2 separate regions of the Homo sapiens genome follow, and region 1 is linked to region 2. The links come from fine-mapping of genetic effects on gene expression. A gene starts in region 2. The other region holds a variant in brackets. All regions are shown on one strand. Distances are between the middles of the regions.

Evidence for each region.
Region 1: its variant is fine-mapped to the expression of COG4 in blood mononuclear cells (TOPMed, PIP above 0.99).

The regions. Positions count from the first base shown.
Region 1 is chr16:70,476,464-70,485,009 of GRCh38, forward strand. It overlaps FCSK (fucose kinase), which reads left to right. Exons shown (of 24, transcript NM_145059.3): 21 at 1,809-1,996; 22 at 2,088-2,187; 23 at 2,717-2,940; 24 at 3,116-3,811. The coding sequence ends at 3,217. It overlaps COG4 (component of oligomeric golgi complex 4), which reads right to left. Exons shown (of 19, transcript NM_015386.3): 14 at 7,390-7,506; 15 at 6,266-6,358; 16 at 5,629-5,712; 17 at 5,301-5,402; 18 at 4,896-5,024; 19 at 4,108-4,681. The coding sequence ends at 4,547. Among named protein-coding and RNA genes, the nearest start is that of FCSK, 26 kb to the left of the region's middle. RefSeq lists enhancers at 232-501, 642-811 and a silencer at 2,443-2,737. The variant G/A (reference allele first, on the strand shown) is at 4,225.
Region 2 is chr16:70,519,808-70,532,232 of GRCh38, forward strand. It overlaps COG4 (component of oligomeric golgi complex 4), which reads right to left and starts at 3,747. Exons shown (of 19, transcript NM_015386.3): 1 at 3,566-3,747. The coding sequence starts at 3,736. It overlaps SF3B3 (splicing factor 3b subunit 3), which reads left to right and starts at 4,009. Exons shown (of 26, transcript NM_012426.5): 1 at 4,009-4,121; 2 at 6,780-6,919; 3 at 9,066-9,392; 4 at 10,938-11,110. The coding sequence starts at 6,850. SNORD111B (small nucleolar RNA, C/D box 111B) reads left to right here and starts at 9,692; the gene lies at 9,692-9,792. RefSeq lists enhancers at 3,380-3,519, 4,553-5,290.

The DNA.
Region 1 (8,546 bases), 45 kb before region 2:
CACCCCCTGGCCATATGGTGGGACAGCAAGAGCCCAACAATGACTATGATCTAATGAATGTCACCAGCGCCAGGCTTCTCACTCCTCCTGGCCACCGAGCCCCCTGGAACCCATGGCCAGTGTAGAGCAGCTACAGCTTGTCTGGTTTCAGGTCCACCTCAGGGTGTCAGGTCCCGTCTCCAGCACACCCCTGGAAAGAAACTGCTGCAAAGGCCTACTGAAGCCTGACTGTGGTGTTTTCTGTCACTCTGCAGCTCAAGCCTCACATTTCACTGTAGTGACTCATATCCCATAATCGGTAGTCATTAGCAAAAGGAGCAGATGGGGAAGCATTTTCAGTTTTCTTTTGAGGTGTACCATTCAAGTTCTACATTTGGCCAACGGAAAACTATTTGTTGAGAACCCACTCTGTGGGGCCCCAGGGATAAAATGAGCAAAAATGGGGTCCCTGCCCTCAAAAGTCCTGTGGTCTCCTGGAGACAGACATTAATCAATAACTACTCAGGTGCATGTGTATTACAAACTGTGCCAAGTGCTTTGAAGCAGAGGGGCACAGTTAAGTCTTGACATTTCAAGACTTAGCCACTTTGCAACTACCAGGTTTTGGCTGCAAAGTTCCAGATGGCTTCTGTCTTTTGCATTTCATACTTTAAACCCTTGCAGGCCCTTCCCTAACTATCAAGGGCCTGTCCCAGAAGCAACTCAAGTTTTGTTATTTTTAATTTTTTTTTATTTTTGAGATGGAGTCTAGCTCTGTCACCCAGATTGGAGTGCAGTGGTGCGATCTCAGCCCACTGCAACCTCTACCTCCCGGGTTCAAGAGATTCTCCTGCCTCAGCCTCCCAGGTAGCTGGGATTACAGGTGCCTGCCACCATGCCCAGCTAATTTTTTGTATTTTTAGTAGAGATGGGGTTTCACTGTGTTGGCCAGGCTCGTCTTGAACTCCTGACCTCATGATCCGCCTGCCTTGGCCTCCCAAAGTGCTGGGATTACAAGCGTGAGCCACCATGCCCGGACTAGTTTTGTTATTTTTATGCAGCTACAAGGAGGAAAATGATACATACCTTTCATTACTGAAGATGGAAAGATGTGTAAGTTAGATAAGAGAAAAACAGATCCTGATGACCTTCCTTCCAACATAAACCACCTGTCAGAAGACGGTGCAGGGAGACTCAGGCCAAAGGGAAGGTATCTGTCAGCCTCTCCTCTGACTAAAACTCCCCTAGGAGGGGCAGAGGTCAGTGTAAAATATGTATTTTTTGAGACAGAGTCTCACATTGTCACCCAGGCTGGAGTGCAGTGGTGCGATCTCAGCTCACTGCAACCTTTGCCTCAGCCTCCCTAGAAGCTGGGATTACAGGGCATGCACCACCATGCCTGGCTAATTTTTGTATTTTTGGTAGAGACTAGATTTCACCATGTTGGCCAGGTTGGTCTCAAACTCCTGACCTCAAATGATCTGCCCGCCTTAGCCTCCCAAAGTGCTGTGATTACAGGCGTGTGCCACCGTGCCCGGCCATAGTGTAAAATCTTTATTCTTCAGTGTGGTTTATCCCAATTCCAATTATACATTAGGTCTAAAACAAAACTCAGGCCTTGGGAATTCCAAGCTTTGCCCTAGAGTGAAGCCCATTCCCTTGCTGGGATTGTTCTGGGGACAGAAGCTGCATAGCTCACTGTCCTGTGGAGTTGAGGGAAGCTATCTTTCCACACTGGTCCCAGCAAGGGGTGCAGGGCCGGGAGCCTAGGCTGGGAGAGTGAAGCTGGGCCAGATAGACTCCAACAGTGACAGTCCCTGGGCTCACAGGAGGTGGCTGGCAGGACCAAGTAGGTGGCCTAATGCCTGGCATCAAGGTGGGGCGCTCCCGGGCTCAGCTGCCACTGAAGGTGGAGGTAGAAGAGGTCACGGTGCCTGAGGGCTTTGTCCAGAAGCTCAATGACCACCTGCTCTTGGTGTACACTGGCAAGACCCGCCTGGCTCGGAACCTGCTGCAGGTGAGCTCTGGCCCCAGCATGAGGGAGGCAGGCAGGGGGCCTGCCAGCTGGGCCTGGGTCCTCACCACCCCTTCTCCTGCCCCGTCCGCAGGATGTGCTGAGGAGCTGGTATGCCCGACTTCCTGCTGTGGTGCAGAATGCCCACAGCCTGGTACGGCAAACTGAGGAGTGTGCTGAAGGCTTCCGCCAAGGTGAGGGGCTTCCTCTGGGGGGGTCAGGGCACTGGGAGCGAGTATTCTGTCACTTGTGGGTTTGAGGCCAGGGTCATCTGCAGGCTTGGCACAAGCTCCAGATATTCGGCCTCTGGGAACAGAAGCCTACTGTCTGTCCTCTCCAGGGTCTCACATTTAGGGGAGAGCTACATCTGAGGACAAAATTTTCATCATGGGAAAGGCCCTCCAGCCCTAACAGGAAGCAGAGAGGGGAAGGGACTCAACCCATGGCTGAGTTCCAAGGAAGTCTGAGCTGGGCAGGGTCCCCAGTGTGTGGCTTCACAGCTCCCTAGATGCCGACTATGCTGGGTGTGGTGTTGGTTGCTTCCTGCACATTGGTCCTCAGGCAGTCCTGGGAAGTGGGTTACTCCTGGCTCCAGCCGGCACTGGAATCCGGCTTCTTTACCATGACACTGGCTCAGCAGCACGTCTTGGCACTTCATGCAATCTCCAGATGGGTGCTGAGTATCTTGGCCCAGGCACGTCACTCCCCTCTGCCCCACCTCAGGAAGCCTGCCTCTGCTGGGCCAGTGCCTGACCTCGTACTGGGAGCAGAAGAAGCTCATGGCTCCAGGCTGTGAGCCCCTGACTGTGCGGCGTATGATGGATGTCCTGGCCCCCCACGTGCATGGCCAGAGCCTGGCTGGGGCAGGCGGTGGAGGCTTTCTCTATCTGTTGACCAAGGAGCCACAGCAAAAGGAGGCCTTGGAGGCGGTGCTGGCCAAGACCGAGGTACTGATGGGGCTGGGGTTGGTAAAGAGACCTCTGGGGGCAAGAGACCTCACTGTGGCCCACCAGTTAACCAGGGGCTATATCTGTAAGTCCCCCTGGTCCTGCAGGCCCAGTCCAGCCTCCAGAAGGCCTGAGATTTGTCCAGAGCCTTCTAAATACTTCCTGTCTTGTCCAGGGCCTTGGGAATTACAGCATCCACCTGGTTGAAGTGGACACTCAGGGCCTGAGCCTGAAGCTGCTGGGGACCGAGGCCTCAACCTGTTGCCCTTTCCCATGAAGCTGGCTTCTCTCTGCAACAGGAGAAAACCTGGAGCTACAGTGTCCCCCACCTTCCTTGCCCCATGGGAACCTCCACCTCCTACTCCCCACCCACCTCTGCGAATCTGCTCCCAAAGGAAGCTGACCAGAGCAAGATCTGGGCAAGCAGAGAGTGCCTGGGACAGGACTGTGACCTGGTGGACAGGGGCCTAGATGTAGCCTCTGTTCCTCCTGGACATAGGAAGGTCCCAAGCTTAGTATCCCACGTGGCCTTTACAAATCCTATGGCTGGCCTTCTCATTCCACAAGGGCCCTGGAAAGGGTTGACAGCCAGCCTTGGCATATGGCTGGGAGTCCCTTAGCAAGGCCAACCCTGAAGAGGCCCTTTGAGGCATTCCCTATGGCTTAGAGTTGTAGACTTACACTCAACCCTCATGTGAGCGTGGGAGTGAGGGTGGCGGTCCCTTGCCAAGTTGGTAGCAGTGACCCAGTGATTCACTGCCATCCCAGGCCTTAACTAGCAAAACTACGGAGCGTGCCAAGTGACCTGGTGCCTGTGGGAAGTGGGTTCTCAGGACTGGCATTCTTGGAATAAATTCACTCTGTCCTTGCAGGTGGTCCTCGTAAAGTCACTTTTGCTCCTGCTGGGAGCAGTTCCCACTTCTCTACACCATGGGGAACTGGCCCTGGGGTGATCCAGCTTGTGGTGCTGGGGGCCCAAGAGGGGCACGAGGGTCTGGGACTGGATGGGGGCTCCTGCCATCATGTGGGCCCCGGACACAGCTGTGTGCTGCACTGTGTGTGGGAGCAGGCTGAGGTCTTGGGTTTTACCTTCCTATTTCAGTGCAACTGATAGACCTGCCCTGCCCCATAGCATCTGGCCCTCCCTGGTAACAGCACACTGGCATCTCTCCAAGGAGTAGCTTTATTCAGGGATCATAAACATCACAGCCTCTCCTCAAAGTCAAGCCTAACTGCTAGGTCCCCAGATGTACCCAAGTTGTCTAGGACTGGCAGGGGTAGCTT[G/A]TTTGCTGTAGTGTTTGAGGGCAAGAGACTGACCATCCATGCAGAAAGCTGGCCTGGGCTGCTCGCTGCCTGCCGTGGCTTTCCCACCTCATTAGGAGCCCGCTTCTCTCGGTGGGGAGATGCTGCCCCCAGAGCATCACCTGGCCAGGTCTGAGGGCAGAGCATGGAGTGGGTCCAGACTTTGTTTCTCTGCTGCCAGCCGTAGAAAGGTCTGGGCTGTCAGATCTCCCCCAAGCCAGACAGCCTCGCTCAGCTCCTTGGCTGGGGCCCCTTAGGGAACAGGCCTGCAAGTGTGATGAGCCAGGTGTGCTCATCCAGGCAGCTACAGGCGCAGCCTCTTGATATCTTCACTGCGGAAGTCTATCCGCAGGGCCAGCACCTGGCGCACTTCAGCAGGGGTGAGGCGCCACGTCAATGGGCCGGAATTGGGTCCCCAGTAATCGAGGATCTCGGTCACCTGTGGGGAAGGACATAGAGACCAGTCAGCAAGGTGGGGTTATTCTGAAAGAGGGCTCTGGCCTCTACCAGGGGCAGAGCAGGGGCACCCGGGAAGGGGAAGGTGTCCTATAGAGCTGGCTGCTGGCAGACATGGTTTAGAGGGAAGTGGCGGGGATCCATCTTTGCCTCTTTCAGTCACCCCTCCCTGGCTGGGCCAAGGGTGCCCCACCTACCCGCTCCAGATTGAGGATGGTGGCCATCTGGGAGAGCCGGGCAAACTTGTCTCGGATGGTCCAGGTGGTCACCGTGGTAAGGTAGGCAATGAGCGACCTCAGCTCCTTGTCAAACTGCAGACCACCCAGCTGCAGGAGAACCCAAGCCCAGTCACTACTTAGGCCTGGCCAAGCAGAACTGGCCTCCAGTTGCCCCCAGAGCTGGGTGGCAAGGCCCGCCAGGCCTCAGGTGGTGCCCTGTGGTTTGTTTGCTCTACGGCTTCAGAAGCCAGAGCAGGACTGGACCCAGACATGCAGGGCCTGTGGGCAGCAGACAGAGGGGATGCAAGTCCTGGGGGTGGTGGCATGACATGTCTTCCTCAGAGGAGAAACGAGAGCCGCAGACCCATGACCCCTTTACCTTACCCGGTTAAAGGTGGATTTCAGCACCACTTTCTCCAACTCGACGGCAACAAGGCTAGTCATGAGGCCGGTTAGGCTGTCGTAGATGACCGGGGACAGGCTGGCCTGCACACAGAGGGTTGACATCAGCCGAGCCCCACCTAACTCCTCTGCCTCTATGCTGGAGTCTTAGGTGGTGAGGATAGTAGCGTGAGGCCACGGGGGAGTTTCTACAGGTGAGGGTTGGAAGGGCTTTCAGGGTCCCCAGAAGGAATGTGATGAGACCCTGCAGGCTGCTGGTTTGGGCTGACGTGGGTAATTCCCTAAGTGGATCCCTAGGGCCCCTGCTCACCTTGAACTCTGCCATTTGCTGCTCCAGGTTAAGGATGAACTGTTGTACCCAAGGGTCGTTGGCCTCATAGTCATTGAATTCTTCCTGTTGTCAGGAAGCAGGGCTGGTCACCATGGGCCTCATAAGAAGTACCATTCATTGCCACCCACCTCTATCCCTCTAAGAAAATAATGTAAAACATTCTTCCTTCCCTGTGCCTTCTGACTCATCTAGTTTAAAACCAGCTCAGACACCCAGGCTGGCAGAAACTGACCAGCAAACAGCCCAGGGCTGTAGCAGTGGCCCACATAACATGGTAAAGTTCCTGGCATTTTATTCCTTCTTGGATCTCTTGTTCTACAGGAATGAAATCACTACGCCAGGAGGAAAAAAACGCTTCTAAGTCTATCATAGGCGGGGCAAAAAGAGCTCCAATAAGGGAATAAGTTAGGTCAAGGCAAACTCCATGTCTTTCTGAGCCCTTCTGACTAGGGACAAACTGTTTCCTGGGAGGAACCTAGTCTTCATGGGTCAGGGTGGGGGAAGTGGGCCTGGGAAGCATGGAAGGTCTAGTCTGTTCAGATGGCTCTGCTCCCTCTAGCTGGGGCTAGGGATGAGGGGTCATCGGGGCTTGATGGCTGCCTGTGGCCAGGCTAACCTCCTCGATGTTGTGGGAGACGGAGAAAAAGCTGTTGATCCAAGGCTGCACCTGTGGCTTGATGGCTGTGCTGTTGAGCTCCGTCAGCCCTTCCTGCACAAGGACAAGGTGGAGACATGTGACACAGAAGGCACGACTCATCCCTTCCCTCTCTCTTCTCCCCATCCCTTCCCTCTATCCTCTCCCCATCCCTTTCCTCTCCTCTCCCCATCCCTTCCTTCTCTCCTCTCCCCATTTCTTCCTTCTCTCCTCTCCCCACCCCTTCCCTCTCCTCTCCCTACCCCTTCCCTCTCCTCTCCCCACCCCTTCCCTCTCCTCTCCCCACTCCTTCCCTCTCTTCTCCCCACCCCATCCCTCTTTTCTCCCTACCCCATCCCTCTCTCCTCTCCCCACCACATCCCTCTCTCGTCTCCCCACCCCTTCCCTCTCTCCTCTCCCCACCCCTTCCCTCTCTCCTCTCCCCACCCCATCCCTCTCATCTCCCCACCCCTTCCCTCTCTCCTCTCCCCACCGCATCCCCTTCTCCTCTCCCCATCCCTTCCTTCTCTCCTCTCCCCACCCCATCCTCCTCTCCTCTCCCCATCCCTTCCCTCTCTCCTCTCCCCATCCCTTGACTGCAGGGCGTTCTTCCAGCCCTGAGGCTTTCTGCAGGCCCTGTTGGAGGTTATAACAGAGCTAGTGCTAATGAAAGGAGGAGCCAGGAACATGCCCCTTTCCAGATCTCAGCTGATTCAGGTCCAGGGTAACGATGAGGCCTTGAGACTGTTCTGATAAACTCTCACAAGAGATTTCAGAATGCTCAATGTTAGGCAGCACCTGCGGCTAGGTCAGAACAACCATGTGGCTCCACTTCCTCTGAGCATCTTCTGAGAGCTCTTGTCATTGTGGGGCCAAGTGCAAAGTCTAGAGCACCAGATGTTGGCTTGTCAGTGTGACAACTTCACTGCTGAGAAACCAACAGGGCCTTTAGTCTCAAGGGACCTGCACAACTCCAGGCTCCAGGGCTTGCGTGCTGCTCCCTCACCCGTCCTCCTGGCTTCCTTGCACACGATGAGCCAGCTAACAATCTTCTCAGAGCAACACACAGGCACAGGATTCAGTCAGCAGTTGAACCTGGGGCTTACCTGCAAGAGGTCTCGGAATTTGTTGGACACGGCGGCCAAGTCAGAAAGGCAGCTGTCAAACTTGGCCTGGGCCTGCTCCCCTCCAATGCCCTGGCTGAAGAGCTTGGTGCAGTCACTCTAGGGGAGAACACTGCTGTAAGACCACCGAGCACGCGTGGGCCATGGGAGTGTGAGGAGCCACCAGCCAGTTCTACTCCTCCAGCCAGCTATGGCCTGTCAAGAGCCCGGATGGGTTTCAGAAAACCTGGATTCTATCCTGGTGGTTATCCACTTGGCTCCCACTTCCCCCTCTGTAATATGGGGGTACCAATGTCGGGGAAGTGAGTAAGAAACAGAAATACCAGAAAGTTTTTCCTGTCTTTAGAGTCAGACATTCCTAGGTTCAAGTCCTGGCTCAGTCATGTATTAGTTGAGTGACCTTGGGCAAATGATTTAAAGTTTCTGAGCTTCAATTTTCCTGTCTATAAAATGGGAACACCAATTCCTGCTCCTCATGTATGAGATGAAGCACAACGTGCCTAGCTCAATGCCTGGCACAGGAGACACTAGCTATTATTGCTATAGTTCCTCCTTTCCCCCCCTTTTATATTTATTTACTTCTTCTTAAATTTTATTTAAATTTACCAAAAAACCACAAAAGTCAGTTTCTGCTTCTTAAATATTTTGGTATGGCTACCAAAGGGGATGGTCAAGATCATAGCTAAGGTTTAAGGGCGTACTGTATACCTGGCTTTGTTCTAAGCATTTCACTTTTATTAAAGTACCAGGCTGGGCGAGGTGGCTCATGCGGGTAATTCTAGCACTTTGGGAGGCCAAGGTGCAAGGACCACTTGCGGCCAGAGTTTAAGAACAGCAGGGAAACATAGTGAGAAGCCGTCTCCACAGAAAATTAAAGAATTAGCTGGATGTAGTGGTGCGCCCCTGCATCCCTAGCTACTCAGGAGGCTGAGGCGAGAGGATCCCTTGAGCCCAAGGGTTCAAGGTTGCAGAGAGCTATGACTGCCACTGCACTCCAGCCCGGGCAGCAGAGTGAGAACAAAGTACCTATTCTACTTAAAAACAAAACAAAATGAAAACCAAAAAACCCCCACAACTATTGTAAGTTACTTTGACCTTCATAAAAAAAAGTATCTCCTTTATGAAATAGGTAAAATTAT
Region 2 (12,425 bases):
TGAAGGGTGAATCTCATTTCCAAGTCCTTTTTTCCTTCCACTATGTTCTCCTTAGACTTTAACAATGCTTCATTTTGCACTTATGTTGCATGATTGTTATCTTACGTATATCTTATTCCACCTGGCAGATGAGCACCATAATAGGAAGAAATAAACTTTTAATCAGTATCATTAGCATAGTGCCTAATACAGGAAGGCATTTAAAATACAATGCCTGGCCAGCACTGGATCCCAAAGTAATCCCAGCTCTTTGGGAGGCCCAGGTGGGTGGATCACCTGAGGTCAGGAGTTCATGACCAGCCTGGCCACATGGTGAAACCCCATCTCTACTAAAAATACAAAATTAGGCTGGGCGCGGCGGCTTACGTCGGTAATCCCAGCACTTTGGGAGGCCAAGGCAGGCGGATCACGAGGTCAGGAGATCGAAACCATCCTGGATAACACGGTGAAACCCTGTCTCTACTAAAAATATAAAAATACAAAAAATTAGCCGGGTGTGGTGGCGGGCGCCTGTAGCCCAAGCTGCTCAGGAGGCTGAGGCAGGAGAATGACATGAACCCGGGGGGTGGGGGGGGGGGGGGGCGGAGCTTGCAGTGAGCCGAGATCATGCCACTGCACTCCAGCTTGGGCAACAAAGTGAGACTCCGTCTCAAAAACAAAAAACAAAAAACAAAATTAGCTGGGTGTGGTGGCGGGGGCCTGTAATCCCAGCTACACAGGAGGCTGAGGTAGGAGAATCACTTGAACCCGGGAAGTGGAGGTTGCAGTGAGCCGAGATCGTGCCATTTCACTCCAACCTGGGTAACAAGAGTGAAACGCTGTCTCAAAAAAAAAAAAAAGAAAATACAATGCCTAAACAAAAAACACCACACACATCTTGCTGAAATGAAATTTCCAGTGACAGTTACCAAAATTTTTCTTCTTGGTGCATAGTCAGTAGCCAGGGGTTATAAATATAATTATCTCTCATTCAAGCCATTTATTGTGCAACCTCAATTTATGTAACATTTTTATGCTTCGGTTTTTTCATCTGTAAAACTAGGATAGCAATACCAATCTCACTGGGCTGTTGAATGAGTCAAACAGGAAACCACACAAAGTGCTTAACATGGTATGTGGCATATAGTTCAACAACAGCCATTAAAATTAACCATACATTTTTATTTTTTGCGGGGGCTCAAGTGCTCTTCCTACCCCAGCCCCCCAAATATCTGTGACTATAGGCGTGCACAACCCTGGTCCACTGTTTAATTTTTTTGTAGCCACGAGGTCTCACTATATTGCCCAGGCTGGTCCCCAACTATCTGCTATTGCCCAGGCTGGTCTCCAACTATAGCTCAAGCTATCTGCCCATCTCAGCCTCCCAAAGAACTGCGATTAGAGGCATGAGCCACTTGTGCCCAGGCAGCTATACTTTTTTTTTTTTTTGAGACGAGTTTCGCTCTTTCACCCAGGCTGGAGTGAAGTGGCCTGATCTTGGCTCACTGCAACCTCCCTGCCCTGGGGTTCAAGCGATTTTCATGCCTCTGCCTCCCAATTAGCTGGGATTATAGACGCCCACCATCACACCCGGCTAACTTTTGCATTTTTAGTAGAGACTAACATGGTTTCGCCACGTTGGCCAGGTTGGTCTCGAACTCCTGACCTCGGGTGATCCACCCGCCTCGGCCTCCCAAACTGCTGGTATTACAGGCATGAGACACCAAGCCCGGCCATATACATTTTTATTAAAATCGTTCTGTAGGTTCCAGAGGAAAACGTCCTCTTGACAGTCATGGAATACAAATACAGTACTTATATCATTTTGTCTGTAAGATTTCCATAATTTTCCACCCAACATATTAAATGACTGAATGAATGCGAGCTTAGGAATGTTAAGTCAAGATACTAAATTTTTTTTTTTTTTTTTTTTGAGACAGAGTCTCACTCTGTCGCCGAGGCTGGAGTGCAGTGGTGCGATCTCGGCTCACTGCAAGCTCCTTCTCCCTGGTTCACGCCATTCTCCTGCCTCAGCCTCCCGAGTAGCTGGGACTACAGGCGCCCGCCACCACGCCCGGCTAATTTTTTGTATTTTTAGTAGAGACGGGGTTTCACTGTGTTAGCCAGGATGGTCTCGATTTCCTGACCTCGTGATCCATCTGCCTCAGCCTCCCAAAGTGCTGGGGTTACAGGAGTGAGCCACCGCGCCAGGCTTTTTTTTTTTTTAAGAGACACAATTTTGCTCTTGTTGCCCAGGCTAGAGTGTAATGGCGCTATCTTGGTTCACTGCAACCTCCGCCTCCCAGGTTCAAGCAATTCTCCTGCCTCAGCCTCCCGAGTAGCTGGGATTACAGGCATGCGTCACCACACCCGGCTAGTTTTGTATTTTTAGTAGTGATGGTTTTCACCATTTTGGTCATGCTGGTCTCGAACTCCTGACTCAGGTGATCCTCCCGTCTTGGCCTCCCAAAGTGCTGGGATGGCAGGCGTGAGCCACCGCGCCCCGCAAGATACTAAATTTTAAAACACATCTTGCTGAGGCCAGACAAAAAAAGCCCCACACACTAAACTAGCCAGGCACGGTGGTGTGCGCCTCTGGTTTCATCCATTCTGATTGCAGCACAACAGCACTCCAGCCTGCGCAACAGAGAGCGGCCCTGTTTCTAAAAATAACAAAACAAAACAAAAAACACCACACACATCTTGCTGAAAAACGTATCAGAAACTGCTAGAGTTAGTGCAAGTTTATACTTGAAAATACTCAAAGATATCAACGATCACCTCTCCCTCAGGCTGAAACTGCCTTTTGTGCTCAACTTTGCTAGAAGTTTGGTCTGGGAAACAGCTGACAAGCTTAGAGCTTAGATCTCTTTTGACTAGCAAGGAACCCAACTGACATTCGAAAGTGAATTGACAGCATCGAGTTGCCACTGAAAATTAAAGGAGGCAGGAAATAGAACGTTATGAACTGAAAGGAATTGGAGAATAGTCCACACCCCTCATTTGATAAAATATCAAGGGTACCAGAGATGAAGTGACTTGTCCAAGATTAGAGAATTGTGTCTGAGTCTTAAAAGCTAAACCTCTACAAAGATGTGCATTTGACCAAAACGCTAAAATCACACCCCCAAATCACTCCCCACAAGAGGAAGTCTTAAAACGCTTCAAGAAGTTAATCTGCAAAGGCTTCCCTCTTAAATAACAGGATGAGAGCGTTTCATAATTTGTAAATTAAGCCAATGCAAAAGGGCGCTTATTATTTTGAGAACCAAGCAATTTGGCAAATACTCTCAGACTAACTTTACTCCCGTGGAGAAACTGGTGATCATGGATCAGGGAAATCAACGGGGGTCTAGGGAGGAGAGGCTGCAGATCGCCCAGGTATCAGGGAAGACAAGCTCGGCGCGTCCGACAGCGTGAAAAGAGTTGACAGGACTACTCATATACCCGACTAGCTTCCGCTTCTTTGTTTTCCCGCTTTTTTGTATCCCCCAGCAAGGAGAGTTTCCCACAGCCCGGATTTCCCGACTGAAGGCTCCCACTCTCCCTAGATCCTCCATGAAAAAGAAGAGGCTCGACCCCGCACCTCCTCGCCGCAGAGCCGTTCGTATACAGCCTCCAGCTCCTGCAGCTCTGTCAGGGAGCGAATGAGCTCAGCGGAGATTTCGGAGCAGCGGCCACCTCCCACCCCCTCAGACGGCTGCTGCACCCCTGACAGCTTCGGAGGCGAATCAAGGTCCGCCATCTTGGTCCCCATTCGGCACTTCCGGTCCCGCGAGGCCCCCTCTTCGTTGGCGCCTATTTGGGGCTGCCCACAGAAGTGCCCAATGAACTCTAATGGTTTTTTTTTTTTAAAGTCTACTTCTAAAAACGTATTAATTTTCTATTCTCCTGGAAAAAGCAAAGCAATAAAGCATGTTTAAATAATTTGTAATGCCGTGTGGAAGCAAGACGGAAGCATTTTTTAAAAATTATATATATTCTTCAGGCGCGGATTGGGTGCCTTTTTCCGCCGCGCGCCACCAGAATGTCCCTGTCTTGAGGTCTAATGGCGGACGCCAGTATGTTGGAGTTGGTGGTGGCTTAAGTTTTGAAGGGAGGTAGCATCCGTTGGATATCCACACCATCCTTCTCGCTGCAGGGTAAAAAAACAGCCTGGAGACTTCCCCGGGCCCGGGGAGGCGGAGACCGGCCATATGGAAGGGGGACCCGAGACTTTGGCGGGGGTCACGGGCAGTCTAGGCCCGAGAGGCTGGGGACCAGGAGGAGGTACCGAGGGATGGTTGAGGCGCCAAAACGGCTTCCTGCAGTTATCTCTCGCTTCCATCCACAGTGTGGGAACATATTCTATCTCAAAATAGGGCTCGTGGAGATTGCTTTTAACTTCTGGGGACTCTGAGACGGGGGAGGTGTGACAAGCAGCGGGAGGCATGGATGTCTCCCTCTGGGTAGAGTAAATGGTACACCGAGGGGAAGATAGAAAGATGGAGCGTGTTAAAAGCGTAAATAACGGAAACAGTCTTTAGAGCCAAGACTCCGGTTTGAATTTGTATTTTGGTAGTTGGGCAACTTGTCTCCTCCTCTGAACCTCTATTTTCTCGTTTGCGTAATGGAGGACAGAGTTTAAATGCGATGATGTTTCCTTGGAGGATGGAGAAGATGCAGTGAGCAATCATACAAGCTTTTTGTAATAATGGTAAACAGACGTGGGGGAAGTTTTTTTTGTTTTGTTTTGTTTTGTTTTTGTGACGGAGTCACAGTCTGTCGCCCAGACTGGAGAGCAGTGGCGCGATCTCGGCTCACTGCCATCTCTGCCTCCCGGGTTCCAGCGATTCTCTTACCTCAGCCTCCCGAGTAGACTAGCTGGGATTACGGGCGCGTGCCACCACGCCCGGCTAATTTTTCTTTTTTTGAGACGGTGTCTCGCTTTGTCGCCCAGGCTGGAGTGCAGTGGCGCGATCTCTGCTCACTGCAAGCTCCGCTTTCCGGGTTCACGCCATTCTCCTGCCTCAGCCTCACGAGTAGCTGGAACTACAGGCGCCCGCCACCGCGCCCAGCTAATTTTTTGTATTTTTAGTAGAGACGGGGTTTCACTGTGTTAGCCAGGATGGTCTCGATCTCCTGACCTTGATCCACCCGCCTTGGCCTCCCAAAGTGTTGGGATTACAGGTGTGAGACACCGCGCCCGGCCCAGACGTGGGGGAAGTTTTAAAGCTTACCAAATTTATCTGGTATGTATTTTTTGTTTGTTTGTTTTGTTTTTGAGACGAAGTCTCGCTGTCGCCCAGGCTGGAGCGCAGCGGCTTGATCTCGGCTTACTGCAGCCTCCTCCTCCTTGGTTCTAGCTATTCTCACGCCTCAGCTTCCCGAGTAGCTGAGATTAAAGGCGTGTGCCACCGCGCCCGGCTAGTTTTTGCATTTTTAGTAGAGGGGTTTTCACTGTGTTGGCCAGGCTGGTCTCAATTCCTGACCTCAAGTGACCCATTTGCCTCGGCCTCCCAAAGTGCTGGGATTACAGGCGTGAGCCACCACTGCGCCTGGCCTCGTATATAGTTTTTCTAGTACTGGACTGATCCTCCGAAATGCACCTTCCTCCACGATCCAAAGTTAAGGTGTCGCTGGAGAACCTGAATCCAACTAGATTTGGGAAAAAATGAATTCCAAAGGTTTGTAATGGATTGTATCAGTTATAAGGAAAGGGGAAAGTAGACTGTTTTGATCAGCTACAAAATATGAAAAGTAACTTGCGGGGAGCTGTTCAGGGATTCAGAAGCAGCTCCTAGCTTCCTCTCTTTTGCTTTTTTTGTTGTTTCTCCACTCCCTGGTCTTTCAACATCGGTCCTTTTCGTTCATGTTTTACTGTGGTCCTAGAACGTTAAACATATACCTTAGTCTATGGGCTGGGCGCGGTGGCTCAACGCCTGTAATCCTAGCACTTTGGGAGGCGGAGGCGGGCGGATCACGAAGTCAGGAGATCGAGACCATCCTGGCTAACATGGTGAAACCCCACTAAAAATACAAAAAATTAGCCGGGTGTGGTGGCGGGCGCCTGTTGTCCCAGCTACTCGGGAGCCTGAGGCAGGAGAATGGTGTGAACCCAGGAGGCGGAGCTTGCAGTAAGCCAAGATGGCGCCACTGCACTCCAGCCTGGGCGACAGATTGAGACGCCTCAAAAAAAAAAAAAAAAAAAAAAAGGAAAAAAAAAAGATATACCTTAGTCTCAAGTAGAAAATTTTATATCTCTCAGGACCCATTTCTAGCCTGGAGCATTGATCTTGCCACCCTGCTTTTGCTCAGCCCAGAAAGTTATTTATGAGGACGTTTACTCATAATTCTCTCTTCTCGTTTAACAATAAAATCAAATATGTATGTTAATTCTATACTAATGACCTTGGATTTCTCAAGGTCCCGTGCTTTTTATTTATTTATTTTTTTTTTTGAGATGAGGTCTCATTCTGTCGCCCAGCCTGGAGTGCAGTGGCATGATGTTGGCTCACCACAACCTCCGCCTCCCAGGTTCAAGCGATTCTCCTGCCTCAGCCTCCCGAGTAGCTGGGACTACAGGCGCACAGCACCATGCCCAGCTAATTTTTGTATTTTTAGTAGAGACGGGGTTTCACTGTGTTGCCCAAGCTGGTCTCGAACTCCTGACCTCGTGAGCCACCACGCCCGGTCACATATGTTGTTTCTTAATAGGGCTTGCTCTGCTGGTTCTGCTGTCTTCATCCAGAATTTCCCATACAGAAATGTCTGTTGAAGTAATAGTCTCCCAGCTATTTTTCTGTTTTCTGTTTTCTTAGCTTTCTTGGACTCCGTACTGTTGGTGTAACCAAGGCCTGGAGGTCTGGGTGGCTCAGGTTTCCTGCAGCCATGTTTCTGTACAACTTAACCTTGCAGAGAGCCACTGGCATCAGCTTTGCCATTCATGGAAACTTTTCTGGTAAGTTCTCTCGTTACCATCTTTTGAAATTTTAAGTGAATTAATACATATCTTGCTTAGTCTCTTGTGCAGGAAATGTTTTCCATTTATGACAAAACAGTTGTTGGTAAATGTAAACAATTCAAATTATGAGATGAGGTGTTAAGTTCTGGTGCATTATCTGTTACCTATTTCAGATGCATTTCCTAGTTCACAAATTGTGTAATGATTCTTGTCAGGGCACACTTTTCTTGGCTGCTTACCTAGTGCCAAGTCGTGTGCCTATTGCTGTAAGACATACTGAGATGTGTAAGACCTGATCTTTGATCTTGAATTTGACATCAGGTTGGGTAAAAAGAATGTCTGAAGGTGTTTGTCTGGTTATCAGAGAGTAATTTAAATAAAGGGAAGGTTGGACCTTGGTTTGGTGCTTGAAGAGATAGAACTTTTGTATGAGAGAAAAGGGAAAATGCAGTTTAGGTAGGGAGTGCTGTCTGCATAGAAACAGATAATTTGCTTACGTTTACCATGTGGGGAATATTTTTGTAAAGATGGATTAAGGCTAGGTTTGAATTGTGTGAAATTTCAAATATTGGATTAGGAAATACAAAGTTACTGAAAGTGAGGTACTAATGTTTATAAAATAAAAACTTTTTCTTGCCATTTGCAGATTTAACATTTTTGAGTCAATCCAAGTAATGCAGGAGGTTCATGATTGTGTAGAGTAAGACATAATTTTGTTGAGGTTTAACTCTGAATACTTAATGTGGTACTGAATACTTAATGTGGTACTGAGAGGCAGCCTAACTGACCACACAGCATTCATATTTCATGTTGTTATTTTCTCTGATCCTCATTATGGCTCTTCCTGCGGGTTTGAGTCTTCATTTGGGTAATTTAGTTATTCTTTGCTGCATTTGATTAAGGAAATACGTATATGGGAATTTGGAGATTTGTGACTGACTTCACTATGTAATGCAATGAATCTCAGCTGGAGTTTGGATAGAATTTTTGAAAGCACGTTTTTGTTTTTTGTTTGTTTTGTTTTTGTTTTTTGTTTGTTTTGTTTTTGTTTTTGTTTTTTCCTTGAAACAGAGTCCTGCTCTGTCACCCAGGCTGGAGCGCAGTGGTGTGATCTTGGCTCACTGCCACCTCCGCCTCCTGGGTTCAAGCGATTCTCCTGCCTCAGCCTCCTGAGTAGCTGGGATTACATGCGTGCACCACCATGCCCGGCTAATTTTTCATATTTTTAGTAGAGATGAGGTTTCACCATATTGGCCAGGCTGATCTCGAATTCCTGACCTCGTGATCCACCCACCTTAGCCTCCCAAAGTGCTGGGATTACAGGCATGAGCTACTGTGCCCTGCTGAAAGCACATTTTTAATACTAATTTTATCTTTCAAATTCCTTTTCCAATTCAGTCTTCCTTTTTATCTAAAATGATGGAGAAGTTTTCTTTTTTTTTTTTTTTTTTTTGAGACGTAGTCTTGCTGTGTTGCCCAGGCTGGAGTACAGTAGTGCGACCTCGGCTCACTGCAAACTCCGTCTCCCAGGTTCAAGCGATTCTCCTGTGTCAGCCTCTGGAGTAGCTGGGATTATAGGCACGTGCCACCACACCTGGCTAATTTTTGTATTTTTAGTAGAGATGGGATCCCACCATGTTGGCCAGGCTGGTTTCAAACTCCTGACCTCAAGTGATCTGCCTGCCTCAGCCTCCCAAAGTGCTGGGATAACAGGTGTGAGCCACTGTGCGTGGCCTTTTTTTTTTTTTTTTTTTTTTTTAGAGACGATATCTTGCTGCGTTTCCCAGGATGGAGTGCAATGGCAGGATTATAACCCACTACATTCTCTGAACTCCTGGGTTCAAACTGTCCTCCCACGTAGCTGGGACTAGAGGCACAGGCCATCACACCTGACTAATTTTTTTTTGAGACGGAGTTTTGCTCTGTTGCCCAGGCCGGAGTGCAGTGGCACAGTCTTGGCTCACAGCAACCTCTACCTCCTGGGTTCAAGCGATTCTCCTGCCTTAGCCTCCCGAGTAGCTGGGATTACAGGCATGTGCCACCACGCCTGGCTAATTTTTGTATTTTTAGTAGAGACGGGGTTTCACCATGGTGGCCAGGCTGGGTTCTGGTTGTTTATGATCTTTATTTTTTGGTGATCTAGGAACCAAACAACAAGAAATTGTTGTTTCCCGTGGGAAGATCTTGGAGCTGCTTCGCCCAGACCCCAACACTGGCAAAGTACATACCCTACTCACTGTGGAAGTATTCGGTGTTATCCGGTCACTCATGGCCTTTAGGCTGACAGGTGGCACCAAAGACTACATTGTAGTTGGCAGTGACTCTGGTCGAATTGTTATTTTGGAATACCAGCCATCTAAGAATATGTTTGAGAAGATTCACCAAGAAACCTTTGGCAAGAGTGGATGCCGTCGCATCGTTCCTGGCCAGTTCTTAGCTGTGGATCCCAAAGGGCGAGCCGTTATGATTAGTAAGTGATTTACTCTACTTGCTGTATATGCCTAGTTTAGGATAACAATGCTGTGCTCTTGGTGGTGTGCCAGTGCCAATTAATTACTTATGTGGGTTTGGCATCATGTTTGGATTTACTCTAGGTTTAAAGTTGCATTTCCTTTTTAAAAGAGTTGCATTTTCTTTTAAAACAATGGGAAAAATCTTAACACACCTTTCTACTTCCCATCTAGTTGGAAATGGGTGTTTTTCAATTTCTTTTTCTTTGGCAAAAAGACTACAATGAAATGATCTTATGTTATTAGACAGTGAATATCGTTGCTTTCATCAGCCTGAAGTGATGATTCACATTCATGTCTCTTCTCTGATAAATTCTTGAAGAAAATTTTTGTGTGTCTGATCAGGCCTCTAGAGGGCAGTCATAAATCGTTAGATCTATTTCAGAGAATAAGGCTAATGATAATTTTATGAATTACTGTTTTTCAGTATCCTTAAATGTAGGACTCATTAAAAAATTTTGACTAGTTAGTGGGATATTTAAGACCTGTATTAGGAAGAAGGGGGCCACAATGATGCCATTGTCTTTAAAAAAATTTATTTATTTATTTTTAAGAGATGGGGGTCTCAGCCGGGCACGGTGGCTATTTATCTTTAAAAGAGATGGGGTCTCAGCCAGGTGCGGTGGCTCACACCTGTAATCCCAGCACTTTGGGAGGCCAAGGTGGGAGGATCACTTGAGGTCAGGAGTTTGAGACCAGCCTGGCCAACATGGTGAAACCCAGTCTCTACCAAAAATACAAAAAATTAGCTGGGTGTGGTGGTGGGTGCCTGTAATCCCAGCTACTTGGGGCAGGAGAATCGCTTGAACCCGGGAGGCAAAGGTTGCAGTGAGCCGAGATAGCGCTACTGCACTCCAGCCCGGACGACAGAGTGAGACTGCATCTCAAAAATAAATAAATAAATAAATAAATAAATAAATAAATAAATAAATAAGAGAGAGATGGGGATCTCACAATGCTGCCCAGGATGGTCTTGAATTCCTGGGCTCAAGCAATCCTTCCTTCTGTCTTGGCCTCCCAAAGTGCTGGGATTACAGACTTGAGCCACTGTGCCCAGCTCCACTATTGTCTATTCTTTTTTTTTTTTTTTTTCAAATGAGGCAGAGTTTCGCACTTGTTGCCCAGGCTGGAGTGCAGTGGTGCGATCTCAGCTCACTGCAACCTTTGCGTCTCAGGTTCAAGCAATTCTCCTGCCCCAGCCTCCCAAGTAGCTGGGATTAGAGGCATGCACCACCACACCTAGCTAATTTTTTGTATTTAGTAGAGACAAGGTTTTACTGTGTTAGTCAGGCTGGTCTTGAACTCCTGACCTCAGGTGATCCACCCACCTCAGCCTCCCAAAGTGCTATTCTGATGATAGAAAACAGAATCCTGAGTTTTTATACTTGTAGAGTTACTGCTGTTAATAATGATTAAAAGAAAAGCATGATGTGACTCTAGCTGTTCTATAAGTCTCTCTTCTCATTATCTGGGAATCTTGTATGTTTTATCTCCTTCAACTACAGGTGCCATTGAGAAACAGAAATTGGTGTATATTTTGAACAGAGATGCTGCAGCCCGACTTACCATTTCATCTCCCCTGGAAGCCCACAAAGCAAACACTTTAGTGTATCATGTAGTTGGAGTAGATGTCGGATTTGAAAATCCAATGTTTGCTTGTCTGGAAATGGATTATGAGGTAATGGGGACCCTGTCTCTTTGCGTTTCTTTCAGTCACCTCAGTGTTTTTTTTTAAGATTGTTTTCCGGCCGGGCGTGGTGGCTCACGCCTGTAATCCCAGCACTTTGGGAGGCAAGGCTGGCGGATCATGAGGTCAGGAGATCGAGACCATTCTGGCTAACACAGTGAAACCCCATCTCTACTAAAAATACAAAAAGAAAATAGCCGGGCATCGTGGCGGGCGCCTGTGGTCCAGCTACTCGGGAAGCTGAGGCAGGAGAATGGCGTGAACCCGGGAGGTGGAGCTTGCAGTGAGCCGAGATCTCGCCACTGCACTCCAGCCTGGGCGACAGAGTGAGACTCCATCTCAAAAAAAAACGAAAAGATCGTTTTCTTCCTTGTGCATACCTTTTTTTCTTTTTTTTGAGACAGTCTTGCTCTGTTGCCCAGGCTGGGGTGCAGTGGCACAATCTCAGCTCGCTGCAACCTCTGCCTCAGCCTCCTGAGTAGCTGGGACTACAGGTGCTGCCACAACGCCCAGCTAATTTTTGTATTTTTAGTAGAGATGGGGTTTCACTATGTTGGCCAGGCTGGTCTTCTGACCCCAGGTGATTGGCCCACCTCAGCCTTCCAGAGTGCTGGGATTATAAGGCCTGAGCCACCTCACCCAGGCCCAGCCCCTTATGCATATCTTAATTCTGTCCTGCTAGCAGATCTTCATATTCCAAATGCCTTACTGAAATTCTTTGGGATGCTTCAGAGGTTAAGCAACTATTTAATAGTCTTTCTCTGATTTAAGTAATCTCCCTATGGAAACAAGATATTTATTGGGAAAAGCTTCATGAAAAACTTGAAGCTATGTTTAAGGTATTTTTTCACAGAACATACTATTGTTTTCCTTTAACGGAAGGCAGTATCCTCTAGTAGAGAGCTCCCTGGATCCAGAATTTGGAGATTGCAGTTCTCGTTCTAGCTCTGCCATTATCTTATAGCATAAACTTTGTCAAACTATTTGGCGTCAGCCAGGTGTGGTGGCATGTGCCTATAGTCCTAGCTGCTTGGGAGCCTGAGGCCCAGGAATTCTAGGCTGCAGTGAGATAAGATTGTACCACTGCAGTCGTGTACAGTGGCTCACGCCTGTAATCCAAGTTTGGGAGGCCGAGGCGGGCAGATCACCTGAGGTCAGGAGTTCGAGACCAGCCTGACCAACATGGAGAAACCCCATCTCTACTAAAAATACAAAATTAGCCAGGCGTGGTGGCACATGCTTGTAATCCCAGCAACTCGGGAGGCTGAGGCAGGAGAATCACTTGAACCTGGGAGGTGGAGGTTGT